Linked DNA regions of Homo sapiens. The protein of the gene in region 6 purifies or fractionates together with the protein of the main gene of each other region. This does not show direct contact. Each region holds a gene or a part of one and is shown on either strand. Other genes may lie near its edges. The genes, in order: TSR1, IFT88, CHERP, CDK5RAP3, ITSN1, SMNDC1 and SF3B6.

The links.
Region 1: the proteins of SMNDC1 (region 6) and TSR1 purify together in Homo sapiens (affinity purification with mass spectrometry; one large-scale study listed by BioGRID and IntAct). This does not show direct contact.
Region 2: the proteins of SMNDC1 (region 6) and IFT88 purify together in Homo sapiens (co-immunoprecipitation; one large-scale study listed by IntAct). This does not show direct contact.
Region 3: the proteins of SMNDC1 (region 6) and CHERP fractionate together in Homo sapiens (co-fractionation; one large-scale study listed by BioGRID). This does not show direct contact.
Region 4: the proteins of SMNDC1 (region 6) and CDK5RAP3 purify together in Homo sapiens (affinity purification with mass spectrometry; one large-scale study listed by BioGRID and IntAct). This does not show direct contact.
Region 5: the proteins of SMNDC1 (region 6) and ITSN1 purify together in Homo sapiens (co-immunoprecipitation; one large-scale study listed by IntAct). This does not show direct contact.
Region 7: the proteins of SMNDC1 (region 6) and SF3B6 purify together in Homo sapiens (co-immunoprecipitation; 2 studies listed by BioGRID and IntAct, with this or other methods). This does not show direct contact.

Annotation. Positions count from the first base shown.
Region 1 is NC_000017.11:2,329,403-2,333,647, forward strand, and holds part of TSR1 (pre-rRNA-processing protein TSR1 homolog), read right to left. Parts: coding exon 4,155-4,245; intron 3,723-4,154; coding exon 3,559-3,722; intron 2,958-3,558; coding exon 2,767-2,957; intron 1,708-2,766; coding exon 1,545-1,707; intron 1,224-1,544; coding exon 1,113-1,223; intron 969-1,112; exon of another isoform or gene 877-968; intron 74-876; coding exon 1-73. UniProt on the Homo sapiens protein: Required during maturation of the 40S ribosomal subunit in the nucleolus.
Region 2 is NC_000013.11:20,569,948-20,574,192, reverse strand, and holds part of IFT88 (intraflagellar transport protein 88 homolog), read right to left. Parts: intron 1,173-4,245; exon of another isoform or gene 1,042-1,172; intron 1-1,041. UniProt on the Homo sapiens protein: Positively regulates primary cilium biogenesis. Also involved in autophagy since it is required for trafficking of ATG16L and the expansion of the autophagic compartment.
Region 3 is NC_000019.10:16,532,054-16,536,298, forward strand, and holds part of CHERP (calcium homeostasis endoplasmic reticulum protein), read right to left. Parts: intron 3,584-4,245; coding exon 3,399-3,583; intron 1,096-3,398; coding exon 958-1,095; intron 697-957; coding exon 545-696; intron 1-544. UniProt on the Homo sapiens protein: Involved in calcium homeostasis, growth and proliferation.
Region 4 is NC_000017.11:47,977,613-47,981,857, reverse strand, and holds the end of CDK5RAP3 (CDK5 regulatory subunit-associated protein 3), read right to left. Parts: intron 4,027-4,245; coding exon 3,948-4,026; intron 3,030-3,947; coding exon 2,941-3,029; intron 1,266-2,940; coding exon 1,060-1,265; intron 696-1,059; coding exon 524-695; intron 422-523; coding exon 356-421; 3' UTR 272-355; coding exon of another isoform or gene 124-271; 3' UTR 77-123; downstream 1-76. UniProt on the Homo sapiens protein: Substrate adapter of E3 ligase complexes mediating ufmylation, the covalent attachment of the ubiquitin-like modifier UFM1 to substrate proteins, and which is involved in various processes, such as ribosome recycling and reticulophagy (also called ER-phagy).
Region 5 is NC_000021.9:33,886,720-33,890,964, reverse strand, and holds part of ITSN1 (intersectin-1), read right to left. Parts: intron 2,814-4,245; coding exon 2,665-2,813; 3' UTR 1-2,664. UniProt on the Homo sapiens protein: Adapter protein that provides a link between the endocytic membrane traffic and the actin assembly machinery. Acts as a guanine nucleotide exchange factor (GEF) for CDC42, and thereby stimulates actin nucleation mediated by WASL and the ARP2/3 complex.
Region 6 is NC_000010.11:110,290,027-110,293,117, forward strand, and holds the end of SMNDC1 (survival of motor neuron-related-splicing factor 30), read right to left. Parts: 3' UTR 704-3,091; downstream 1-703. UniProt on the Homo sapiens protein: Involved in spliceosome assembly.
Region 7 is NC_000002.12:24,066,597-24,070,462, reverse strand, and holds the end of SF3B6 (splicing factor 3B subunit 6), read left to right. Parts: intron 1-2,003; coding exon 2,004-2,142; intron 2,143-2,611; coding exon 2,612-2,701; 3' UTR 2,702-2,877; downstream 2,878-3,866.

The DNA.
Region 1 (4,245 bases), on a different chromosome or scaffold from region 6:
TGAGCTCTTCCTTGGCTTTCACAGGTTCAGTGTTGCCAGGGTCACGCCTCACCACCATATTCAATACTGACATCTGGGGACCAAGTAAGAAAAACAAAAATCTTCATAGTCTAGGAATACAATTGCCTAAACTGAAAGAAGGCAAACCAAACTAGCAGATTCAGACTCATTCTAAGAACTGACAATGCTAATTAATGGTGGAGTGTAGATGCTGAAACACGGGTTCATCCTTTACCTCCACCAATGACTGGCATTTAAGCCAAACACAGGCTGATCAGAGCTTTCATGCACCCTTCAATGCTAACCTACCTTCCTGCACCTAACAGAAAAGAGCTCAACATCTGCCACACAAAAATCAGTGGCCTTCAAGGCATTCACTCACCACAATCTCAAAACCACACTCATTCAAGCCCCTTCTTCTTGAGCCCTTACCAAAACCGATCAAAGAACTATCACATACCCCACAACATACACAACTACTGGCCACCAAGAGAAAAGAGATCTGCACTTTGGCATAAACTTTTTTTTTTTTTGACATAAGAGTTTCGCTCTTGTTGCCCAGGCTGGAGTGCAATGGTGCAATCTTGGCTCACCACAACCTCCGCCTACTGGGTTCAAGCAATTCTTCTGCCTCAGCCTCCCAAGTAGCTGGGATTACAGGCATGTGCCACCACGCCTGGCTAATTTTGTATTTTTGGTAGAGACAGGGTTCCTCCATGTTGGTCAGGCTGGTCTCGAACTCCCGACCTCAGGTGATCCACCCACCTTGGCCTCCCAAAAAGTGCTGGGATTACAGGCGTGAGCCGCCGCGCCCAGCCAAACCTTTATTTTTAAGGCTGCCAACCCTTATTCAAAATCTGGTCTGAAAAACATACTTGGAGAAGTCTCAGAACCACACAGAGATTGCATCACTGAGATGCTTCAGACAGGTTCAGACGATATGAATAAAACCATCATTGACTTCTCTATTATTCTCCAATTCCTAATCATAAAGGCAGACTTTTTGCATCCCAATGAGCAAAATTTTAGTCACACATAAACAGAATTTTAGACTGTCAGAAGCAGCTGGAAAGTTTCACAACCCCCCATTTTCCCACAAGACAGCAATTTACCTTCTGTTCATGAGGTAGTAAAGAAAATGCAATCAAGGGTGTTCCTTGCCTGAAGCACTCGACCACTGAGACGGGGACTTCAGAGACATGAAGTGTGACATACCAGCCAACCTGCCACAAGAAAGCAGAAAGCAATCATGGAGTTACCTTTCAAAGTCCCAATAGCGAGGAAGCTTTCTCCAAATATGTTGAGTCTCTCAGATAAAATTTTTAAAGCCAACCCTCATCCTTCAAGATGCTTCATTTACCCAGATCACACTTTTTCATTTAACATAGCTGATACCTCTTTGTTCCCAGTATCATTCTAATCAATGACTCAGGGGCTCCCCTAATCCCCAAATGCAGCATATTTTCATGCCAAGAGAAGGAATAAAGTAGGGAGCATGTTGACAAATGAAAGCAACATACAAGATGAACAAGGAGGATAGATACCTCAGCTCCTTCAACCTCTTTTTCTTCAACCTCTTTAAAGATGCTTTTCCTAGTGTTAGTAAAGTTCTGAAACTGAAATATTCGAGCATAATCTTGAGGAAGGTTTTCCTTAGGATCCCATGGAGATGTCCGGAAGCTCTTAAGGCCTCTGTATTTCTGAAATCTAGAATATTGAAGATTTTTAAAGACATTAAGTCAGATTTATATGGTGCTATATAGACTCAAGTCACTGCTAAAATGGCTAAGGAGCTAGCTGAAAAGAACTCCAATCATCCTCTCTCCAAACAACCCAACAGCTTAAACCAAGACGACACTCCGAACAGCTTATAACAAGTTCTATCGGAACCAAACCCAAGCTTCTCACTGACAAAAAAGATGCTTGGTAATGGCCTGATACAGTTCAGATGTGTCTCCCTGCCCCAATCTCATACTGAAATACAATCCCCAGTGTTGGAGGTGGAGCCTGGTGGGAGGTGACTGCATTAGGGGAGAGGTTTTCTCATGAGTGGGTTAGCACCACCCTCCTTGTTGAGTGAGTTCTCATGAGATCTAGTTGTTTAAAGTGTGTAGCACCTCCTGCCTTGCTCTCGTTACTGCGCTGGCCGTGTGACATGACTTGCTCCCCCTCCACCTTCTGCCATGATTGTAAGTTTCTTGAGGACACCCCCAGAAGCTGAGCAGATGCCAACACCATGCTTCCTGTACAGTCTGCAGGACCATGACCCAATTAAATCTCTTTTCTTTATAAATTATGCAGTCTCTGGTACTTCTTTATAGCCATGCGAGAATGGCCTAATACATAGCCTTACCTCCTAATATCCAAAATTAATTCACTGGCTTTAGTCACTCACCTCCAGAACAGATATAATCATCTACTTCTTCACTCTTCTACTTCTGCTATTCTACCCAAACCCCCTAAAATTTCCAAACATTATATACTTCAATTGAGTACTGGCTCCTTTGGGAAGAAGTATTTGCTAATTAACCTTAGTATTTCCCCTTCATTCAAGTCCTGTAACGTGAGTCTGCACCACAGTCTAGAACTTAATTACATATGACCATTTCCCGTATGTATGTCCTGCCTTCCCATATTAAATGTTAGCTCTTCAGGAGCAGAAAAAATGTGTTTTTCTTCTTTTGCATCACAGTGACACAGCTCTGAGCCAAGTTTTTAAAAACGTATTGACTGAATTTAGATTTGTTGATAGACTTGTTGACTAACCGAATTCGAGCAGCCACATCACGGGGCGTGTCCACTTCATCTGGAAACATCTCTTCCAGTCTTTCTTGTTTATATTTCTCCAACATTTTTGCCTCAGCTTCTTCATCTACTTTCTTATCATACAGATCATCATGCACAGACTCCCCAATAGTCATAGTTTCATATTCTTCCTCTTCTTCACTACTCTCATCCTGTAGAATAGGATTACAGTTTTTTCAGAAGAAATCCACACCTGTCTCTACCCCAAAGGCCAATAAGCTAAGAGTAAAATAATTGTACTAGATCCCTATTCCCAACCAACATAAATTCTAATACAGTCTAAAGTATAAAACAAAAGCCTCATTCCTGGCAACTACAGAGTCATTCCTAAGAAACTAACCATACACGGCCGGGTGCGGTGGCTCACGCCTGTAATCCCAGCACTTTGGGAGGCCAAGGCAGGCGGATCATGAGGTCAGGAGATTGAGACCATCCTGGCTAACACAGTGAAACCCCGTCTCTACTAAAAATACAAAAAAATTAGCCAGGCATGGTGGTGGGCGCCTGTAGTCCCAGCTACTCAGGAGGCTGAGGCAGGAGAATGGCGTGAACCCAGGAGGGAGAGCTTGCAGTGAGCCCAGATCGCACCACTGCACTCCAGCCTGAGCAACAGAGCAAGACTCCGTCTCATAAAAAAAAAATAAAAAAAATAAAAAAAAGAAACTAACCACACACACCCATCAAGATCACACCTGCACTTTGCCTTACATTTGGAGCTAGACACAGAATTGGCCTAAGGCCTCATTTCCTTACCTGAGATTCCTCCTCCATAAAATCCTCATGTTCCATATCATCATATTCATATTCATCTCCTTCCCCACCACTTTGGCTGCCACCATCCAAAATCCATTCAGCTTGGTAACTGGATGTTCCTTTGGGGACCTTCTTTACCACCTTAGAACTTTCCTTCAAGAAATCTGTAAAAGCCCAAACAAATTAAGTAAATTACAGACTTCTTTTCCCTATCCCTCTGGTTATTCTCACCTAGGCAAGGCACCAGATACTGCTGCCAACATGGGAAATTCTGGCAGACACTGTAAATAGAACTACTTCCAAATTTAATTCAGCTGCCTCACAACTAGCAATACTTACACAGCTAAATAAGCCCTGCAATGAATCCAAAGTTGTTTATCTGTTCATGATAAAACATTAACACAAGTAATTTTGAGAAATGGAACAAGACTGTGTATAATGTTTGTTTATTGAAAACATACAGCATTTGAGGGTGAGGAGAGACTTTCAACTATACCCCCACCCCACTCTATCCTATAGGGCCCTCACTTGGAACAGCTACAGAAAATCCACAATTCCAGGTCAGATGAATTACAGACAAGTTTACCAATACTGACCCTTTGCCTCGCTCAGCTCCTCCTCAGTGGGCCAGGTTTGCTCTCCCTCCATTGGATCTGGGATAACCTCTGCTTGCAAGGATTCCTGTCT
Region 2 (4,245 bases), on a different chromosome or scaffold from region 6:
ACCACACCCAACTAAGTTTGAAATTTTTTGTAAAGATGGGATCTCCCTATGTTGCCCAGGCTGGACTCAATTTCTTGAGCTCAAGTGATCCTCTCACTTTGGCCTCCCAAAATGCTGGGATTACCAGCATGAGCCACCACGCCAGGCCAGAAATAATTCTTAATTCCAATAAAGTATAACTATTTAATGACATTTGTGGTCAAATTTATCTATATATATTTTCATGGCTTCAATTTTTTTCACATCAAATTCCCAAAACTAGATGTCAAAACATTAAGTTATTGTCCTCATTTCACATTTATTTCACAACTACGACACTGAAAGAACAGTGACAGGCACTAGAGGGGGTACAATTGATTGTCCTGATTTTCATGGAAGCTTAGTATCAAGTGCAGAAGAAAGGTATGCAACAGTCAATTAAAATGCAAGGCAGAAGCCACCACATACCCATCAGAATGTGTAAAATTAAAAAGACCAACAACACATAATGTCAGCAAAAATGTGGAGCAACCAGAGTATTCACACGTTGCTGATGGGAGTGTAAAATGATACACTTTGGGAGAAAAGTCTTGCAGTTTCATAAAATTAACTTTTATTAAAAGTACCTTTTATCACCCAGCAATTCCACTCAAAAATATTTACTCAAGAGGAATGAAAACATATGTCTACAAAAAGATTTGTATAAGAATGTTCATAGTAGCTGTCGACCTAAAGAAAGGAATTGAGGCATAAAATACAATTCTAAAAAGTTTACTTGAGCCAAAATGAGGACGGCTGCCTGCCCAGAACACTCAGACTTCATGTAACCTTGGACAGGCGCTCCATTTGGCCTTTGTTTCAAGCAGATCTTTAAAGGCAAAAAAGTGGGGCAGGGAGTGGGCTGATACAAAGCTGTCTGTCAGAAATTCTCACTGGTTTAAAAAAATAACGTTGATTAGTGATTGGCTACATTGTATGGGTTATAGTATCCAGACAGTGCCATTGTTAGATTAATTTATAGCTACTTATGGCAATAGCAAGCAAGTTTCAAGACATGATTACTTAGCCCAAGAAGGTAAAGGAGATGTGACTGCTGTTTCACTCCCACGCCTCTCTGGACCTGGTAATTTAGAGGAGAGTCTCATTCTTCAAATTAAACCTTTCTTTTCTTTGTCATAGCTTTATTCATAATACTGAAAAATCAGAAACAAACCAGATACCCATCAGTAAAATGGACAAGCAAAATGTGGCATACTTACGCAATGAAGTACTATCCAGCAATAAAAAAGAATCCCAATTATGCTGAGTGAAAGAAGCCTTACATAGAGTGTACATTATGCACTGTTTCCTTTATATGAAGTTCTCAAACAGGCAAAGCTAATTTGCGGTAGAAAACCATCAGAACTGAGATCGCTTCTTGGGGATGGGGGTTAGGGATTGAATGGAAAGGGACATGAGAGAATTTTCTGGGGTGATGATAAATGTTCTGTATCTTGGCAGGGGTTTGAGTCGCACAAGTGTATGCATTTGTGAAAACTCAGCAAATATACACTGCGATTTCTGCTTTGTAAATTTTACCTCAAAAGTAAGAACTATAAACAAATATTGAACTATATAATTGATACGCATGCTGTTATTTCAGGGAACATGTAATAGCTGTAATTTAGCTTAAAATACATAAAATAAGACAGCTTAGGCCGGGCGCCGTAGCTCATGCCTGTAATTTCAGGACTTTGGAGGGCCAAGACGGGTGGATTACTTGAGGTCAGGAGTTTGAGACCAGCTTGGTCAAGATGGTGAAACCCCATCGCTACTAAAAATACAAAAACTAGCCGGGCATGGTGGTGCACATCTGTAATTCCAGCTATTTGGGAGGCTGAGGCACGAGAATCGCTTGAACCCAGGAGGCAGAGGTTGCAGTGAGCTGAGATCATGCCACTGCACTCCAACCTGGGTGACAGAGTGAGACTCTGTCTCTAAAAAAAAAGATGGCTTGATAGATGGATTGAGAGATAGGTAAATGGATAAGTACATGATAAAGCAGCTATAGAAAAAGGTTAATGGTGGAATCTAGGTAGCAGGAGTAACATTCAACATAAAATTCTTTAAACCTTGCTGCATGTTTGAAAATTTTCATAATGAAATGTTGAGGGAAAAAATGCAAGACAGAAAAAAAGATATCAAAGCAAAATGAAACAGAAGAGTGAAAGCTGATCATACAAATTTGAGTCATTCTTGTCATACCCAACTAAAACAGAGTCAAGAAGCTGGGGTGTGTTGGTGGGGAGGCACTCAGGACACATAACATTGCTTGAAGAATGGAATTCTCTGCAAGTCTGGCTGCTGAAACTGGCTGCTAAAACCTGAGGCCAATTTTATTTATAGCTGCTGAGATAACTTGCTGCAAATATAGGACTAATTGTGCCCACCACAGCTACCCACCAATTAGAACTTGCCAGCTTCCCAGAACCTCACTAGTTCCAGTGAACTTTCTCAAAGAGCACTACATGACACTTCTCCTTTTGATAAACCTCCAACCTTCTCTTTGTTCTTTGGACATACCAAAGACCACCTGGTCCTCAAACTGCAATTCTTTCTTCCCAAATAAAAATGTAAAATTTCAAGATTCATCTCTACATTTTGACTTGGACAGAAGCATGGGAGAAATGAAATTACCATATAGATATACTGTAAATCTAATAATTACTAAAGAATCTGGCAAGGATTCCTGGAAGTATCATTCAAATCAAGTCAATATTTTAGGCAATTTGAGGGGTGGGAGGTGGAGGAAGGCTAATTACCCAAGAAATGTAGTATTGCTAGTATTCAAGAAATGTATTTTCTTTAAAGCAAATACATATTTTCTTAAGGCCTGTACATTTTAAGTGCACCAGCAAATTCCTAAGAAATTTTCAGCTTAGGCTGGGCGCAGTGGCTCACGCCTATAATCCCAGCACTTTGGGAGGCCGAGGCAGGCAGATCACGAGGTCAGGAGATCGAGACCATCCTGGCTAATATGGTGAAACCCCGTCTCTACTAAAAATACAAAAAAATTAGCCGGGCATGATAGCAGGCACCTGTAATCCCAGGTACTCAGGAGGCTGAGGCAGGAGAATGGCCTGAACCTGGGAGGCGGAGGTTGCAGTGGGCCGAGATTGTGCCACCACACCCCTGCCTAGGCGACAGAGCCAGACTCTGTCTCAAAAAATAAATAAATAATAAAAATAAATAAATAAAAAATAAATTTTCAGCTTAATCTTTTTCTCAGCATAATACCACATATATGTGGCTTCTCATAACCTTTAAAAATTATTTATATATTTTAAATACTAACAAAATTATTAGTTTTTGAACTATAATTCATATACCATACAATTTAACTTTTCAAGGTGCAGTGGTTTTTAGTATATTCACAAGGTTGTGCAACCATCCCCAGTATGTAATTCCAGAACACTTTCATCATCCCATAAAGAAATATGGGGCCTGTTAGCAGCTCTCCATGCCTCCCTTCCCTTTCCCCAGTCCCTGGCAACCATTTTCTGTCTCTATGGATTTGCCAATTCTGGACATTTCATATTAAGGAAATTACACAATATGTAGCCTTTTGTGTCTGGTCTCTTTCACTTAGCATAATGCTTCCAAGGTTCATCCACGCAGTAGTATGTATCAATATTTCATTACTTTTTATGGCTAAATACATCTGCAACATTTTGCTTATCCATTCATTAGTTAATGGACATTTGAATTGTTTCCACTTTTTGACTTTTATGAATAACATCACTATGAATGTGTGTGTACAAGTTTTAGCATGCATATATAGGTCCAATTCTATTGGGAATATATCTAGTAAAGGAATTGCTGGATCATATAGTAACTCTATGTTTAACTTTTGGAGGAACAGCTAGACTGTTTTCCAAAGTGGCTGCACTATTTTACATCCCACCTGCAATGCATGAAGTTTCCAATTTATCCATGTCCTAGCCAACATCTGTTACTGTTCCTGTTTTTGATTATTGCAATTCTAGTGAGTATGAAATGGTATCTCATTGTAGTATTGACTTGCATTCCCCTGATGACTAATGATGTTGAGTATCTTTTCATCTGCTTATTATCCATTTCTATATCTCTTTGGAGAAATGTCTGTTCAGATCTTTTGCTCATTTTTTTTTTTTTTTGAGACGGAATCTTGCTCTGTCGCCTAGGCTAGAGGGCAGTGGCGCGGCTCACTGCAAGCTCCGCCTCCCAGTTTCACGCCATTCTCCTGCC
Region 3 (4,245 bases), on a different chromosome or scaffold from region 6:
ACAGCAACAGTGGGAAGGGTGAGGGCTGGGTGGGGACAGAGGGTCGGCAGATGTGGCTCTGTTGAAGCCTGAGAGATGGGTCAGGGCTGGAGAAGGGGATCCCAAAGGAGGGTCCTGATGGCTGAGCAAAGTCAGGTGACCGCGTGTGTGTGCGTGCAAATCAGTGACGAGGGCAGGAGACAGACACAGAGGCCAAGGAGGCCGTGGCTGAGAAGGCAACAAGGAGACGCCAAGAAGCTGCCCCATGAGAGGAAGGAGTGCAGGGGACAGTGGCCCCCAGGAGACAGCAATGTGACAGGTGAGGCCGGGGTCTAGGGGAGAGGACAGGGCATGCAGCGAAGGTGCACAGGACACCTAGACCTCGCAGTCCTGGAGACAGAAGCCTGGTGGCTCACAGAGACCCCCCACCCGGGGTCCCCGGACAAGTGCCCCCTAGTCTCGGGACAGGCCAAGCCAAGCTACCGACCGGAGCAAGCGGCCACCCAGGAGGGTTGAGGAGGAGCGCGAGGAAGTGGCGCTCTGGGCACGGGGTGGCGGCGCTCACCAGTGGTGCAGCACGTCATTGATCAGGTAGATGAGGTGCAGCCGCAGCTCGAAGTGTGCCCCATCAGCCGTGATGCGGTTCCGGAGGTGGCCGGCCATCAGCTCACAGTGCGGCGGGGACTTGGCATTGCTGAACATCCAGTTCTTCCCGGCCTGCAACAACCGAGCCAATGACGAGTGAGCAGGGCCGCGGCTCCCCCAGGCACCCACTGCATCCCTGAGAGCGCGTCACCATCAGCTCAGGGAAGGACACACCATGAGCGTGGGGGGCACAGGGTCCCACAGCCTCAGGAGCTCCAGGCGGGAGGGAAGGGCACCCATTGTAACAGCCCTTAGCCCAGATTGGCTACGACAGGCCCTGCCTCAGGGAGGGACCAAGGGAAAGCTGGGCTCTGGGAAGTGCTGGCCCCTCACCGAGATGGCGTCCTTGGTGCACGTGTCGATGATGGGCTGCAGGAGGTTGTCAAACTCGTTCATGTCTAGCTGGGTCTCCTCCAGAAGCTTCTGCATCTGCTGCTCCACCGCGTGGGCCACGGCCGCTGTCACTTGCTCCTGCGGGCGGGGGTCGGTGGGGTCGAGAACACATGAGGAGGGACCCGCAGCCTGAGCCCTCCGGCCTGGCTCAGCAGGGGCGGGGTGGGGACATGGTGGCGATGCCCGGACTCTGGGCTGCTCTGGCCATCAGCTCCCTTGCTTGTCCCCAGCAGGAGGAGATTCTGTCTCTCATGCCTGCCGTGAATCTGTGACAGTCCCTCCTGGAGTGGGCAGGGCACTGACAGGACATACCAGGAGACAACACCTGCCCTCCAGGTAACCAAGGAAAACACTGCAGCCCAGAGGAACAAACAACCTCTGCAAACCAACTCAACAAAAAACAAAGGCGGGGCGCGGTGGCTCATGCCTGTAATCCCAGCACTTTGGGAGGCTGAGGCGGGAGGATCGCTTGAGCCCAGGAGCTCCAGACCACCTGGGCAACGTAGCGAAACCTCATCTCTACAAAAAATAAAATACAAATTAGTTGAGCATGGTAGTGTGTGCCTGTGTTCCCAACTACTTGGGAGGCTGAGGCGGAAGGATTGCTGGAACCCAGGAGTTCAAAGTTAAACAGTGAGCTGTGACTGTACCACTGCACTCCAGCCTGAGTGACACAGCAAGACCTTGTCTCTAACAACAACAAAACAACAACAACAACAACAACAAAAAGAAAAGAAAAGAAAAAAAAAGACAAATGAGGCATGGTGTGAACGACAGGCAATAGAAGAAGAGGATACACCCATGGCCTCTAGTGAAGCAAGAAGGGGGCAATCTCATTCCTCAAGAGGAAACACCGGTTAAAGTGCGACTGGTAAAAACAGAGCTGCCATGCGGACCAGCGGTCAGTTACGGCTGGTCAAGGCAGGCCTCCCACTCCATGATGAACAGAAGCTGAGGGTGAGCATTCTGGAACTTTCTTTTCTTTTCTTTTTTTTTTTTTTGAGATGGAATCTCGCTCTGTCGCCCAGGCTGAAGTGCAATGGCATAATCTCAGCTCACTGCAACCGCCACTTCCCGGGTTCAAGCAATTCTGCCTCAGTCTCCCGCGTAGCTGGGACTACAGACACCTGTCACTGCACCCAGCTAATTTTTGTATTTTTTACTAGAGACAGGGTTTCACCATATTGGCCATGCTGGTCTCAAACTCCTGACCCTGTGATCCGCCTGCCTTGGCCTCCCAGAGTGCTGGGATTATAGGCTGAGCCACTGTGCCCAGCTGGAATTTTCTGAGAGCAATATGACAGTGTGATTTTATGCCCTGAACCTAGTACTGAGCGTGGGGTTGGTGTTTTGGAGGTTTGGTATTCTATTCCTCTCATTTTTCTGGCAATGCACTTGTAGTATTTTATTTATTTATTTTTTCTGAGACTGAGTCTTGCTCAGTCACCCAGGCTGGAGTGCAGTGGTGCAATCTCAGCTCATGCAACCTTTTCCTCCCAGGTTGAAGCAATTCTCCTGCCTCAGCCTCCCAAGTAGCTGGGATTACAGGCGTGCACCACCACGCCCAGCTAATTTTTGTATTTTTCATAGAGACAGGGTTTCATCATGTTGACCAGGCTAGCCTCGAACTCCTGACCTCATGATCTGCCCATCTCAGCCTCCCAAAGTGCTGGGATTACAGGTGTGAGCCACCACACCCAGCCAATGCACCTGTATTCTATTTGGCGAAAGTTATCAAACTGTTGGACCAGGAAGGACAAAAGGGTCCTTCTGGCCAGGTGGATCACCTGAGGTCAGGAATTTGAGACCAGCCTGGCCAACCTGGTGAAACTCCATCTCTACTACAAATAGAAAAATTAGCCGGGTGTGGTGGTGCATGCCTGTAATCTCAGCTACTCCAGAGGCTGAGGCAGGAGAATCGTTTGAACTCGGGAGGTAGGGGCTGCAGTGAGCTGAGATCACGCCTCTGCACTCCAGCCTGGGCGACAGAACAAGACTTAAAAAAAAAAAAGGGTCCTTCCCCAACCAACAGCTCCAGGTGACCTAGCTACTGTGTGGTGGGGCCAATGGTAGGCACCAGAGGCTGCCTGGCCACAGCCATTAGGGAGCTTCAAGGTGCATACGTGCCCCACAGTCCCACTCAGGGGGGTCCACCCCAGGGTGATGGGTGCACGCACGTCCAGTGGCTTCACTGAGATGAGAAGCAGCCTCTGTGTCTGGCATCAGGGCTGGGGGTGACAGTGGCTGACATGCACCGAGCCCTGGGTGGCAGGGGGGGCCCTGTCCTCACTGACACCTGTTATTCATTCTGATGAGCAGACGCAAAAACAGAGGCACAGGGGAGCTGCTGGTGTCTGGCCGAGGAGGCGGCGGGCCCATACCTGTCTGAGCGCCAGCAAGTGCTGCTCCTGCTGCTGGAGGTTCCACTGGCTCTGCTGGATGAGCTCGTCCATGGATGGCGCGCCCTGGGCCGGCGGGATGGGCGCGGCGGGGGCCAGCGGGGGCTGTGGCAGGGGTGGCATGGTGGCGGCTGGCTCCAGCTCCGGGGTCTGCTGCTTGCAGATGACTGGAGGGAGAGGAGGAGGGGTGCCCCATGAGAATGCAGATGGGGGTCTAGGTGTCCCCTTGGCCACCTCTCAGCCACAGGGGCCTCCCCCTCCCCAGGGACTCACCATCCACGAGGGCCTGTTCATAGCCTCATGCCCACGCAAACCAGCTCCTCCTAGTCTCGGGTCCTGCCCTCCCTCTCACAGGATCCCAGCCTCAGCATTCCATCTTCGGGCCGTCCCCTCCTCGGAGAACCTAGGAAGTCCCCTGGCCGCTCTCTCGCCAGCACCATCCAGTCCTTGCGCAGTGTCCTTCCGGTGCAAGCTAAGCTTGCCTGCCCACCTCCTCACCCACCTAGGCCCCACCTGATGCAGAACCCAGGCCTCAGTACCTCTCATCCTCCGACCTCCTCGGCCACTCCCTGACCTCTGCCACTTAAGCTACCCATTGACTGTTAAGATGTCACAGCCACCGGGCCTCTGCACATCTGGCCAGAAAGGCACGAAGCCGCACCCCCGAGCGCACACTGCGGCCTCCCCCACACCTGCCTTGTCCTTCTACTGACTCTCCTTGCTTCTCCAGCCCTTGGGGACAGAGACCCCTCTGCATTCAGGGGTGCATCCAGTTTGAGGCAGCAGTGAGACACCCATTCTGCCGGCAGAAGCCTGGGTCAGGGTGGGC
Region 4 (4,245 bases), on a different chromosome or scaffold from region 6:
CTGGATCAAGAACCCCACGAAAACAGGTGCGAAGCCTCAACTGCAGGCTCAGAGAAGCAGCATAAGGAACTGTCAGTACTGAAGCAAGAGTTTTTTCCTCTTTTATTAAGTCCGCTATACTAACTAGAAGGAGAATCTGTGGTTTTCGCCTGATAGACCACAGGGCCAATCACCACAGCTTCTTGTAGAGAACATGGAGAGTGCCAAGATCACCATCAGGTGCCGCTTCCTTCCTGTGGCTTTCCATCTTCCAGTCAGCCTGGTCTTTTGCCTTGAAGGGCCCCAAAACAACAGCCCTGGCTATCATCTTCATCCCAAAAGCGGAGAAGATGGGCAGGCAAGAACACGGAGGGTGTCACAGAGAGGTTCCCATCAGGTTCACAGGGCGCCCGCTGTACCTCTTGGAGATGTCAGCTTCAATCTGAAAGAGTGATACCAAGTGGGCAGAAGCAGGGGTGCTCAGGGCCTCATTTTGCACAGACTGGGAGTCCTCCCACTGGCAGGCCTCCCTTTCCCATCTCACCAGCTTCTGCAGCTCCTTGGTCTTCTCCAGTAGCAGGTCCAGCTTAGGCTCCAGAGCCGCCTGCTCCTCAAGTGCCTCCTGCTGCTTCTGCACCATCAGCTCTTTCTTCAAAGCCAGCAGCTGGGACTGCTTCAGCTTTTGCTGGAGGAATTCAGTCACTCGGTCCACATACCTGTGCGGGGCACTCAGGTGAGTGCTGGGTTAGCTGTGCATCCTGAGCATTCCCATTCAGCTGCTGGGGAGGTGAGAGGCTCGGGAAACCAAACCCCCAACTGGCCGCTTACCCTCACATCCTTAAACCCTTTCCTTTTAAGGAAAACCCACTCCCAGTTCCCCTGTCCTACTCAGGAAGCAAGCAGATTCTTCCTGTATATGTGAAACCTCCCCCTCTTGTCCCAAAGAGAACCCCTATCCCCAGTGGATGGCAATGGCCAGGAGGCAGGGATGGGGTTTAAGGGGTCATGGAACAAGAGGAGGAATACAAGGAGGCAGAGCTGCTCAAGATGGCAGAGCCTTGCATCAAGGGGAAGCCAGACCTTGGTGAGGCCAGGATCATAAACAGGTGTTGCAGCTGAAGACTGGTAAGCTTGCCAATCAGATCCTCCAGCACTGACACCATGGTAACCATCTTCTCTTTGGTCTGGCCCTGCAGGATGGCTGGAGCCAGCTGGAACTGGCTCACAGACAGGACATCTGCCTCCTCACTCAACTCCACTGCTCTCTGGGCTAAGAAGATCTCAAGCTGAGGACAGAAGAAAGATTGGTTCAGGCTGTACATGATGGCTCACACTTGCAATTCCAGCACTGTGGGAGGCCAAGGCAGGAGGATCGCTTGAGGCCAGGAGTTCAAGACCAGCCTGGGAAACGATGAGACCCTGTCTCTACAGAAATGTTTAAAATTAGCCAAACATGGTGGTGTATGCCTGTAGTCCCAGCTACTCAGGAGGCTGAGGCGGGAGGATCACTTGAGCCCAGGAGTTTGAGGTTATAGTGAGCTATGATTGCTGCACTGCACTCCAGACTGGGCGACAGAGAAACTCTTTTTAAAAAAAAAGGAAGAAAGAAAAAAAGAAGATAAATTGGTTCAAACTGAGAGAAGAACTCAGAATCTAAGCCCTCGGACTACTCGAAATGCAAAAATGAGACATGAGGGCTAGACTCTGGGTAAGGAGTTTCCTCTGAACACTGTAAGCGCTAGGAGAGACTACTGTCACCCTTCAGTCCCCACCTCCTATCTCATCCTAACCCCAGACCTCTGTCCTTTCTCCCCAGCCTGGGATCAGATAACTGAGAATACAGAGACTCAAAGGGTTCTCTCTGCCCAGGGAAGGTATTTATTTTGTCTCCATGGGAGGAATGAGATTCAGGGAACAGAAATACATGTTTGAGAAGCACTGGATTAAGGCAAGGCTGAAAAGAATACAAGAGCCAGCCATATTAACTTATCAATCCTATTCTGCCGTTAAAACTTCACAGATATCTTTTGTCCTCTCCCCTTGAGGCTGGGAGGAGCCTCTGGGCAGAAAGAGGAGAGAACTGGGTGAGGACAGAACTTTCAGGAGGCTCTCCGAACCAGCAGGCTACTGGGAAGGGAGCAGATACAGAGATTAACAAAGACAGGACCCCGTCCTCCCAGCCTTACAACAAAGGTCCAAGAACGCTGGCTCCTTACGCTGGGCTGCTCAACACCTTAGCCACAGGGATCGTCCTTAAACACAAATGAGATCATGTTCCTAACCTGCTCGAAACCTCCAACAGCTTCCCAGTTCACTCAGAGGCAAACCAAGGTTCAGACGCTACATCTCTGAGCTCTTCTACTCCCCACCAGCTCTCTCTCCTCAGCCACACCAGCCTCCATGTTGCTGGTCAACTGTGCAAGGTCTGCTCCCACCTCGGGACCTCTGCACTTGCTCTCTCTGCCTGGGAAGCCCTTCTGCCAGACATCTGCATGGTTCTCTCTGCACCGCCTGCAGTCTTGATTACAGGTCACCTTCTCAATGAGGCCTTCCCTGACCACCAGATACAAAACCATAGCCCTTTCCAACATCCTCGTCATCCTCCCCTACTTTCTCTTTCTCCGTGGCATTTGGTGCCATCTAGCATCCTGCATATTTTATTTATTTATCTTCTTTCCAGTCTGCATTCCCCATTAGAATATAAGCTCCATGAGGTCAAGGACTTTGACTGTCTTATTCACCACCCAAGTTCTGGTGCCTAAGGTAGTGCCAGGTGCCTAGGAGGTACCTGATAAGTAACTGGATGAATAGGAGGCATCTAATACGTGAGGCTCCTGCTGTAGGACACAAATAGCACTCACACCCTTCACACAAACAGGAGGGGTCAGGTCAGGCATCTGGAGTGAAGCCACCTGTGCTGGTGCCATGCCTCCCCCCTGCATCTTCCAGAGATGACAGTACCTCCATGAGCTCATCAAGGAACTGATTCCGGGTCTCAGTGTATTCAAGCAGTGTCAGGGCATCTGGGCCCCTGGCAACACCTTCTGGAGCTGCCAGGAAGAGACAGAGAAGTGATAAAGGATCAGAGGACTGGAGAAGGAAAAGACCCTCAAGTGTGAGAAGCCCTGGAGGATTAATACGGACAGACTCACTGTGCTAAAGCCACTTCTTGTTCTAATCCAAGGGGGAAGGCTACCTTGTCCCAGGTGTCTCAGCTCTAATCAGGTACCACTTTCCAACTCCCAGACTGAGAGGAGGACCAGAGCTGGGTTCAGAGGGGTAGAAAGGCCGGCTCTCTGCTCTGGTGGACCGCAGGAGGTAAAGTTTCATCCTGCACCGCCCTCTAGTGGCTCAGACACCACTACGTCTTCTCTGCTGTTGGGGCGGGGGTCATGTCACACTCCAGGGCCCCGATCCCCCTAGAGCCCTCCTACCATAACAGCTGGCCCACATGTGGTCTCTAAAAAGTTGAGAGTTTCTAAACTCTCAACTTTTAAGAACCTCTCTTGGGCCAGGCACGGTGGCTCACACCTATAATCCCAGCATTTGGGAGGCCGAGGCAGGTGGATCACCTGAGGTCAAGAGTTCGAGACCAGCCTGACCAACATGGAGAAACCCCAACTCTACTAAAAAAATATAAAATTAGCTGTGCGTGGTGGTGCATGCCTGTAATCCCAGCTACTCGGGAGGCTGAGGCAGGAGAATAGCTTGAACCCAGGAGGTGGAGGTTGCAGCGAGCTGAGATCATGCCATTGCACTCCAGCCTGGGCAACAAGAGCGAAACTCCGTCTCCAAAAAAAAAAAAAAAACCTCTCTTGGTCCCCCTCAGCTCACATCCTCATCAAGGTTTTGAGAAACAGTTAAATGTGCAAGAAGCCTCATCTTAGCGCTGCATTTTTTGTTTCTAGACACGTGGGGGCCCTTGAGCACCCCACTTTTGCCAGGGCTGCAGGGGATGGTGCACTTACCCTGGGTTCCTGCTTCCAGCACTGTGATCTGCAAAGCAACAGCATCGTCTCCCCAGTCTATCCCATCACCTCCAGGATCCTGGAAGGAGAGCAAAGAACCACAGCAATGGGGGGAGAATTTTCCTGAGCCAAGGAGCCAGAATAAACCAAAGCCCTTGATGAGGTCAATGGCTGCACATTCCAACTCTATTAAGGATTTGCAGCCCTGACTTAGGTGCCAAAAATGGCAGTATGGCCCATCATCCCTGCTCTGTAGTGTTCCCACCTGCCTTTACCCCTACACCCTGTACCAAACACC
Region 5 (4,245 bases), on a different chromosome or scaffold from region 6:
AACCCTATGACCAGCACAGCCCCTTCTTGGGCTAAAGGAGATCAGAGTGTGCAGGAGAAGCTAGCAGTGTGGCTCAGAGCAGAGGAACGCTTGCAGGGGTGTCTAAAAGGCTGGGATCAGGATGCCGGGATGCAGTGGCCTAGAGAACTCCTATATTTAGAAAACAAAGAGCTAGGAGACAGACTCCTTGTTGGCAAGGAGCATTTAATTTCTATGAAATATAGCCCAGGTGGTCAAGAAGGTAGAGGTGAAGGAACAGAGAGGCCCAATGGTTTGAGACTCCATGCATCACCCATGTTTCTCAATCCCTGTGACACAACTCATGAATCACAGCTGGGTCCGAGGGCCAGCCCGACTCCTCCATACGGACAATTGGTTACATTACAAATTACACCAGTAAATACAAGGACACTAATCCAGAACTTGCTACATGGCAGGAGCATCTCAAGGATGCTCAACAGAGTCACTTGAGGAAAAAGAGTCACATATTGCTTTCTCATGCTACATTAATTCCAATAATAGGACACTATGAGTGGGTGACCTGGGACCTAAAACGATTGTTTGTCATTGTGCATACCATACGCTACCTACATGAACAATGATGTCCAACATTAACACGCAAATAAAGTCAATGAAGAAAAGACAGGACAGAAAACAAAAAGAGATCGGAATGGTGACCCACACTACCCCATTTACACATTGAATACTTTTCTTTCTACCATGGTAGCATATCTTTCATAAATACACTAAACAAACGGTGTTGGTTATAGAAATAGGAAAGCATGAGTTGCATGTCTATTTATAGATTTAATTTAAAAGTTTCTTAACAACATCAAAAAATATAAACTTAAAGTATTTTAACCATGTTTTCTGCTGGGAAATGGTAAACAAATGCATGCCTGAAGTTAAACTTGGTCTCTAACATGTTCAGTTGAAAGTTTCTAACTACAGGGTATATTTGCTTGTTTCAAAAAATACTTATGTCTGTTGTTCTTGATACAAAATTCTACACTATCTTCAATAAATAAATAATAAAGTATTTCTTAAAAGTATGAAATGTAAACTTTGTTGTCCTTTCCAACACACACTTTTAAAAAAATTGCTTGAAGTATGACCGGGCTCTCATGGGAAATGATAACACTACACATTCAGTTCCCAGCAAAGGAGGTACTCTGCCACAACGCTGATGCTATCATTTAGAAAGCACTTTGATAACCCTAATTAAAGTCTAAGGACCTACAATCAAAGAGAACACCATCTAGTACAGGAAAGCTAGACTCCAGTACCAACAGAACATGCAAAGGACATTTCATGACCACAACAAACTAGGATTATGAGAATATTAACATGCAAACAAAACACGGCCCCCACTTTTCATTAGCAAATCAAGTTACTATCTAACTAACCAGATGATCTCCTGGCATTTAAGGGAAAAAAAAATTAAAGAACTCAAACCAAACAGCTTGGCACATAGTCATAAAGTCCTGACTCTTGCAACAAGCATATTATGTGAGGTTGGGGTGGTGGAGGGTGGAAAAGTGTCTTAGGTCTTTGCCCCGGGATGTGCGGGGCTTGCATCCTCCTAGGGTCTTTCACCCACCACATAATGGACTGCCTTCATTTTCTTTCCCAACCTCCAGCTTGATATTTTTCCTTTTCACGCCTTGGGGATCTAGGACATGGCTTTTTGGGGAACGTACCAAAAAGAGCTGTTGAAATGTCCTACAACAATCAGGATTCAGCACATTCAAGCACAGAACAGGTCACCAGCAACGACTGCTGCTATGAAATATCACAGGCCTCCGAGCCAAAAGAGATTTTTCCAACATGGCTGCCAACCGAGACCCAGTGACCCAACATTGTAAAGTTGCCTTTCCAGTGACCTGTAGTGATCTGATCCAGCAGAGGGGTGACTTTCTAGATAATGACTTTCTGTGACCATATTCTAAGCATGCTGGGAATCAGAACTGAATCCACGCAACAATACACCAGTGTGTTTTCATTGACATATATTAATACAAGGCCTAGAGGGGGAAGGAACGGCTATAACGGTGCACATGCTGGAAACTTCCATAGACCAGCTCTTCAAAGAGCTAAGCCAGGGCCTGATCAGACCGTCTCACCGAGTGATCAGCTCTAGGCAGCATTTCCCTGCAGGAGAGATGGGATTCTGAAGCAATGACAGGACCGTCATAATTGTTTCTAAACTCACACCAAGGACTGGGCATTGTAGGCCAAGAAGTCTACTTGGGGACTGGTGGATGTAAGAAACAGGAGGGTTACATGAGTTCTCCAAAAATATAGACATTGCATTTATAAATCTATTTTATAGTAACCAGACCCATCCCTCAAGCCCGGGAAGGGGCTAGACTCCCAGCTGCACCCTGTTGAGGGCTATGGGATTTCAGCGACCCTAGAAGCCATAATGAGACCTGTAGTGAGGACAAAGGAAAACACAGCTTTGTTTCATGAAACAGGAAATTGTTTCGGGGCAGGGAGGATTGTCGAGAATGATTCCTAGGAGCTTTGAGGGGCCTGTCTTTGCCATCCCATATCCCTGTGACTGAATACCAAATGGTGGTTTCTTAGAAAAGGAATACAATTTCCAGACAGCATGTGTGGCCGTGGGCTGGGACCCTGCTGAGCACACCCTGAGCCCGCTGCCTACGGCTCATCAAACAACTGCAGGTCCAAGCGGACCACAATCTCTCCCGTGGGGACTTCGTGCAGCAGAAGACACTTCGTAACTGGACCTTTGGAGCCCTGGTCTTTCTTGATGTCCGCCACACGGATCTCCGTCCGACCCAAAAAATCTGAAAAGAGAACAAACAGACCCTCCTAAGAGGGACCATTCCCTCTCTTCGAGGCACATGTCTGGCATATTGGGGACCCCCTGATGAACTGTTATGCTCTCCCTTCTTCTCTGGGCTCTGATGTAAACCAACACTAGGATTTCCAACTCGCTCCCCAGCGGAGTTGCCAATGTGTCATGGTATTTCATTACTTAAATAAAAAAAAAAACCCAACCCCAACCTTTATCTCTCAGAATTAGAAGGTGGCCGGGCACAGTGGCTCGCGTCTGTAATCCCAGCACTTTGGGAGGCCGAGGCAGGAGGATCACTTGAGTCCAGGAGTTTGACACCAGCCTGGGCAATAGAGTGAGACCCTGTCTCTACAAAAAATTTTTAAAAATTAGCCTAGCATGGTGGTTCATGCCTGTCATCCCTGCTACTTAGGAGGCTGAGGCAGGAGGATTGCTTGAGCCTGGGAGGTGGAGGCTGCAGTGAGCTGTGATTGCACCACTGTGCTCCAGCCTGAGTGACAGAGCGAGAACAACAAGAAAAAAGATAAATAAATAAAAAAAATAAAAAGAAAAAAGAATTAGAAGTTGACAGTACACATAGTAGTTAAGAGCCCAGACTTGGGAGCCAAACTGTTCCAGTCACACTCAAACATTTAACCAGCTACCACAACGAGTACCTAACTCACAATGAGATAATTCATATAAAAAGTACTAAAAGATGAAGGCCATATGGAGCCATTTAAACCTTGTACAGATAATGCTAGCATTTGACCCTCACTTCTTCGGTTATAATTAAGTTGAGACCATAATCTTTTAACTTACTCTGTGATTTTTTTTTTTTTGGAGACAGGATCTTGCTCTGTTGCCCAGGCTGGAATATAGTGGTACCATCATGGCTCACTGCAGCCTCGACCTCCCAGGCTCAAGCAATCCTCCTGCCTCAGCCTCCCGAGTAGCTGGAACTACAGGTGCATGCCACCATGCCTGGCTAAGTTTTGTATTTTTTTGTAGAGACAAGGTCCCACTATGTTGCCCAGGCTGGTCTTAGACTCCTGGGCTTAAGCGATCCTCCTGCCTCAGCCTCCCAAAGTGTTGGGATTCCAGGCCTGCAGCACCATGCCCACCGGTGATTTTTATTGGGTTGAGGGAGAGACAGGTAGTTTCTTGGAATCATTGGGCTGAGACTATTCTTTTCCAGGCCCAAGCAGAAACAGAAGGCTGGCTGAAGAAATGATTCATTCAACATGACTGCATCCCTTTGCCTACTTAATAAGTGGTACAAAAATGCCACCCAAAGGGACCTGGCCCATTCTGCGGCTCCTGTTGTGGGCTAACATCCTTGTTCCATTGGCCAGTTTCATCCATTGCCAGCACAGCTTTTTGCCAAGGACTGAAGAACTATGCTGAGGCTCTTAAACACACCCCTCTCCACAGTCACCTGC
Region 6 (3,091 bases):
TCAGCCGTATTCTTAAAAAAGACTAAGTGGAGAAACAAATTACAGTTTAAATAATTCCAGTGACTATACTGGTTTTGTTTTAAATGAACTGGTAAGGTGTGTGGTGGAACTAAGTTTCCAGTTTTTGTTGCCTGGGAACTGAAAGATTAATTAAATATCCAAAACTTCGTATTTTTAGCTAGTTCAGCTGTCAACTACTACAAACCCCTATTATTCTCAGTTCTGCTTTACCCCAATCAAGGCCACAAAAGAACCACCTTTATATACATAAGTTAAAAGGCAGAAAAGGCAATTAAAACACCTCACAGAAATCTAACACTATTTTGTTTTATTTTACTCTTTTGGCTAGGCCAAAACGAATTATTAAAATGTTCCATCTATAAAATTGATTTCTGAACCTCTTAAGATGTTTCTTAAGAACATAACTATACACATACATAGGCCTTTTAAAAGATGATTGGATAAAGGGCGCCAATTACTTGGGTTTTTCTGTTTGTTTAAAATACAGTATTACCTGTTATTTTGCCTGCTATGCTCCTCCTCTCTACTGCAGTAAAAATTCAGTTTAACTTGCAACTCAAAAATCCTAGATACAAAGAATGTTTACATTTACTGTTGAACTTGTAAATTGCCATTTATACTAATTGATTGCTTCGTAGTACCATACAGATACTTAATTCAGCTGATATTTATTGAATCAAGATTTAAAAAAATATAAAACCTCATTGGTTTTAATAGATTTTCTTCCTTTATATTTCAGTTACTACCCAAGTTAAAGCAAAAAGCTAAATCAAAGCTTTAAATTTTTTTTGGTTGAATTTACAACTGGTAGTTTTTTATCTTATAAAAATTGTAATTATAAAATTACAATCTACAGACACATGAGTCACACAACTACAGTTTTCCTTTATGTTAACCTGATGGTCTCCTTTGCTATTTTTAAGGCAGACATTTGGCATTAGAATTGCATACTGGAAACAGACACACACCCTTCATTGTGACAACAAGCAATTTTTTAAAAAAAATGTGTTGCTACAGTAACTGATGCATCTTGTTTTGGTTTGACGCCTAGTCTTCATGATTAGGCTAAAAGGTAATTTTTCTTCATTTCCAAAGTCAAACTTTTATAGTTAACAGTTCTCAGACGGGGATGCACATCAGGATCACCTGCGGTGTTCGTCAAACAACATACCTTGGCCTGGATAAGTCTAAGGTTGGTCCCAGGCCCACAAATTCCTCTTTAATTTTAAACAAGCATTAGGGGTGACTTTTATTATAACCTTCACCCCCTTCCCATTAAGAAACATGCCCTAGTATACAAATTAGTTCAAACCTTTAACTAGGAATACTAAATATACCCTACAGCCTTGGTAATTTGATAACACTTCAATAATACAGTTATAATTGGATGCCTCAAATCATAAACAATGGGTATTGTTATCCATTGTAATGTGGATTGCTATTCAAGTTAAGGAAAAAATATCAGATAATTCACCACTGCCACTCTGCAGAGTAATAGCAGACGCTTCTATAGTGCTTATGCCGGATACTCTTAAGCTATTTACACATTTGAATTCAATCCTTAAAACTGAAACAGATTTTTCCATTCTACAGCTGAGAAAAATGAATCAGAGGAATACACAGGTAATAAATGGGAATACACAGGTAATAAATGGTAATAAACAAACACTAGTCTGGCTCTAGAGTCCTTGCTGTTTTCCAGTATGCTCTGTGGCCTCCCTACATGTTAATTAAAATAGCACTTGTTACCTGTGATTACCACTAAAACTCAACATTTTATTTTCGGGAGGTTAGGACTGTTCTTTCCTTGAAATGGTAACAACAGTCAAACGTCAAGCTTTGGTAAGTTACATGCAACCATTTCTACTTAGGGGCCCATAACTCAATATTTAACATTTCAGTCTGTCACAGTTTCAAAGCTTCAAGTCTCCTTTCTTAATGGGGAAAACTCTACATTAAATTTTCTAACAAAGCTTTTTAAGGTCAAGGTTTATATTTTGTTTCAGAATATAGAGAGCTTAACCACCTTCAACTGTAAAATACTGTGGGTATCATGCTTCTCATTGAGCATCTTCTCAAATTCAGTATCACACTGTGACAGGTAGTCTCCCCAGGAGTCCTGCCTCTTAGTTCAGAGACACAAACATCATCCTGACACTAGGATTTTCCAAAGGGCCACATCTAGATCTTTGACACAAAGGTTGCTGATTTCATTCTAAAGGTCTATTTTCAAAACATTTTTTTTTAAGGTCACTTTTATTCTTTTTCTCTCTCCTACTGCAAAGTCCTCTGGGAAAACTAAGGCCCCCCAGGGTCAAAAGAGGGACAAGACTGTTAACAGTCCTGCCTACACAAACATCAAGTGAATTACTATTCTAATACCACCAAGGTAATCTCAACAACCATTTTCTGGGGTCACACAATGACACCAAATTTCTTCCCAGTGCTTTTTAATTCAAAGGATTCTCTTGCAATCCATCAAGGCTACTCTTGATTATTGATAAGCTCTTAAGATGTTACAATAACAAAGTATATTTTATTTAGAAGTTTACAGGCTTCAACAAACCCTTTTTCTACTGCAGTTTGTGCCTTTCTGTCCTTTGTGTCCTACCCTGTGGCCACGAATTATATGAAGAAAAAGTGACCCTCCTGGGTTGAGAGGGGTGGGTGTGGAAGGGAGAGATGAAGAATTCTACCTACCACTGTCCTAAGTTTCAATTTATAAAAAAAATTAAAATTCATGAAATAAAAACTTATTTTCCCCTTCCACCAAAAATCTACAAACACCCATTAAAATGAGGACATCCTATAAACACAGGCCTGGTTTGCCCTTTAAGATCCAATTTCTTCTAATGGAAGGAATACTTAAGCATTTACTGAAACCTCTCACACACTCAGTATTCTCTTGCATGAATGCCGTGTGCAAGTACTTGGAGGTTTAATTGCTTTAAGTGCTGACAGCTAAAGACTTTACCCTTTTGTTAACACACCCTGGAGATTTTAAAAACACTTTATTTAATAAAAGTTAAACATACAAAACTGAAATAATACACATCCTAAAAATTACCTT
Region 7 (3,866 bases), on a different chromosome or scaffold from region 6:
TAGGTGTTCTTATTCCTACTCTAAGATTTTAATGCCAGTCAAGAAAATTGTAGCACTTTGGGAGGCTGAGGTGGGTGGATCACTTGAGGCCAGGAGTTCGAGACCTGCCTGGCCAACATGGCAAAACCCCATCTCTACTAAAAATACAAAAATTAGTCGGGCATGGTGGCGCACACCTGCACAAGAATTGGTTGACTCTGTCTCAAAAAAATAAGAAAATAATGTTAGCTCAGTGTCCAATACGTGGTAGGTACAGATACATGCTTTTAAAAGTTCAAATTATAATATGGCTCTCAAGGTGTGAGGTTGATAATTAGGGCTGGGACACTTAAGATGGAGAGTCTTTAAAGTGGGGTTAGTGTCTATCCCTATTCTAGTTCCTAAGAAGATATAAGAGGAAGAAAGAGAGTTGCTTTGTTTAGTTTTGTTTTGAGCTTCCTGAACAAAGTGTGTGTGAGAGAACTGATAGAAGAAAGTAGATCTCCACTTTTCAAAGGCGTATTAGCGTCTGCCTTATGCGTGGCACTAAAGGAATAAATGAAGTACGCATAAGATCACCTTTGCTCTTAAGGAACTGAAAATCTTATTAAGTTTTTAGAAGTCAAAAGTCTGAAAGTTGTTAAGACTTGCCAGAGCCTAAAGAACATTCTAAAACCCCTCGTCAGGCCCACACAACCTGACAAAGTGAGCGCATTCATTGACAGTGGCACCCTCCAATCACCCCCAGTACCCTATTCCTTTTCAATTTTACAGGAAGCACAAGCTTGAACAGGGCCCAGACTATAGTCCTATCCTAGATCAAGTCTAGGCAGGTACCTCCTCTTCCCATGGCTCCACTGCTTTTATTCAACCCTATGTAAGGACTGTGGCAGATGGAGAGTCAGCCCACAGTCTTAAACCTCATTCCACAGTTGCACTGGGTGGTTGGAACACAGATGGAGGCAAGGGGGCCATCTTGTCACCCAGAGCCTGAACTGAGTGGGACCTCTACCCATTGTCTCCACTAACAGTCACATGGCCACCTGCTGCCTGCAATTTAGCGTTGCGTTGCTCCTCAAACTTCTCTACCTCTCCCAGAGGAAGTTGGTGAGGTGAAGGAAGGAAGTGGCCAGGAATAACTACACTAACAGCAACCTCGTATCCATAAGTAAGGTTAGCTTCCACTTCCAGCCACCTTCCAGCATTCTGCCCTGGCTCACTGATAACCCTATCCACAAGCACACTTCCACTCCCATCTTTGCAGAAGCCTAGCCCTTCTCCCTAGCCACACAGCTGTATCGTGCATTAGCACTTGAGTTGTATTAAAAATGAATGTAGACCGGGTGTGGTGGCTCATGCCTGTAATTCCAACACCTTGGGAGGCTGAGGCAGGCGGATCACTTGAAGTCAGGAGTTTAAGACCAGCCTGGGGAACATGATGAAACCCTGTCTCTACTAAAAATACAAAAATTAGCTGGGCATGGTGGCACATGCCTCCAGTCCCAGCTACTTGGGAGGCTGAGACACAAGAATCACTTGAACTTGAGAGGCAGAGGTTGCAATGAGCTGAGATTGTGCCACTGCACTCCAGCCTAGGCAACAGAGTGAGAGTCTATCTCAAAAAAACAAAAACAAAAACAAAAACAAAACAAAACAAAGACAACGTAGAGCCAGTCAGGGTGGCAAGAGCACCTGTAGTCCCCACAACTCACGAGGCTGTTCTGTGTAGTAGCTGTGTTCTTAGTATTCCTGATGTGACAGTCAGCTTGACCTATGGATATTTTAGTTAAGATAAAAACGAAGAACAAAATTACCTAATTCAAGAAATTACAGGCTTATCCGGTATATCTATCCATGTTTATTTCCTCTGATGGTTTCAGGTTGATTTCAAAATACTTAACTAAAAACGTATTTCAATTTACTGTTTTTAAAAGACAGTTACCAGTTTAAAAGACAGTTCTGTAAGTCAACTATCAATGCTCAGGTAAATGTATATCTTAATTAAGTTTAACTTACCTCTCCAGGGGGAACACACCTGAAACTAGAGGAACAGCTTATGTGGTCTATGAGGACATCTTTGATGCCAAGAATGCATGTGATCACCTATCGGGATTCAATGTTTGTAACAGATACCTTGTGGTTTTGTACTATAATGCCAACAGGGTAAGTATAGCAAAGTTCTCATTGTGTAGTGATCTCATTTGAGAATTAGTGTAGAACTGGCCGGGCGCGGTGGCTCATGCCTGTAATCCCAGCATTTTGGGAGGCCGAGGTGGGCGGATCACGAGGTCAGGAGATCGAGACCATCCTGGCTAACACGGTGAAACCCCGTCTGTACTAAAAATACAAAAAATTAGCCGGGCGTGGTGGCGGGCGCCTGTAGTCCCAGCTACTCGGGAGGCTGAGGCAGGAGAATGGCGTGAACCCCAGGGGGTGGAGCCTGCAGTGAGCCAAGATCACGCCACTGCACTCCAGCCTGGGCAACAGAGAGACTCCGTCTCAAGAGAATTAGTGTAGAACTGTACTGTGATGATATATGTCTACTATGACTTTCTTTTTTGGCTAATGCTATTGATGAAATTCATTTGGCTGTAGATTGGTAATTTAATTTTGGTGCTTACCACATTTCCAGGCATTTCAGAAGATGGACACAAAGAAGAAGGAGGAACAGTTGAAGCTTCTCAAGGAGAAATATGGCATCAACACAGATCCACCAAAATAAATGTTTTCTACATTTTCATTTGGACTAAATCCCACGAATGACAACTACCACCTTTTTTTCCTTTTTAATTAATACTAAATATTGTGATTTCTTATTTGAGGTTCAAAATGACCTGCTTGAAACTTTGATACATATTGGAATACATTATGTTAATAAACTTGTAGCTTTTTGTGAAACACCTCAGTCTTTTCTCTTGAACTTTCCCTTCCTGTTTGATACCAGGAAAAAACAGTTGAAGCTTATCAAGAATTGTAGGTGCTCCTAGGGATTCTGAGTTTCTTGAGAACAGGATCTCTTTACATTCTTAATGCCTCCAGGGCCCGGTGCAGTGCTTAGCCATCAAAGGAACTTGCTGTTTATTGCATGTCCATTAATAATGAAATCTTCATAACAACTCAGTGAAGATAGGTATTTGCATTTTGCAGGTGAGGAAACCAAAGTTCATGATGTTGGTTGAATGAATAAAATGCTAACATACAAAGCTGGTGTGATAACAACCAGTTATTAACCAAGCCTTTACATTTGAATAATGCTTGCTTTATAGTTAACAAAACACCTGTGTCAATATGGGTACCCTTGTCTTTAGAACAGAGGTCTATTATAGAAATGGTCATTTAGATGATAGTACATTGTTAGAAACTTAGATTTGCCTCTTTAAATTGTTTTTTAATTATTATGGGTACATAATAATTGTCACATTGGTAGAAATTTGAGAGCAAGCTGCTTGGGTAGTGGCGTTGGTTGTTACATGTCTAAGATTGTATTTATGTAGACTTTTCCTTTAGTTATTAAGTATCTGTAGGTATATTGGACCTTAGCTCATAATATATCTTTGCCATAAATACTTAATGCTCATTCTTATTATCATGAGTTCCCATGACATGGAAACAGTATGGTTATTACCCCATTCATCATCATGGCAGCTTGGGAGAATATAGCCGTAATTTGCTTTTTATTGCTTAGGCATGGACCAAATGGAAAAACATGGACTAATTGTTTTGTGTGTGATTGGAACCTAAAATCAATTTGAAGGTACATACACTGAATCACTTCAATGTACAAAGAGCATCAATTCTGCTTTTAATTATATCTGAGTGTTTTTTGAAAGCAGTGTAAGAGAGTAGAGTCATTTCTAAGGGTGGGAAGATAAGAAAGGAGCTACAGC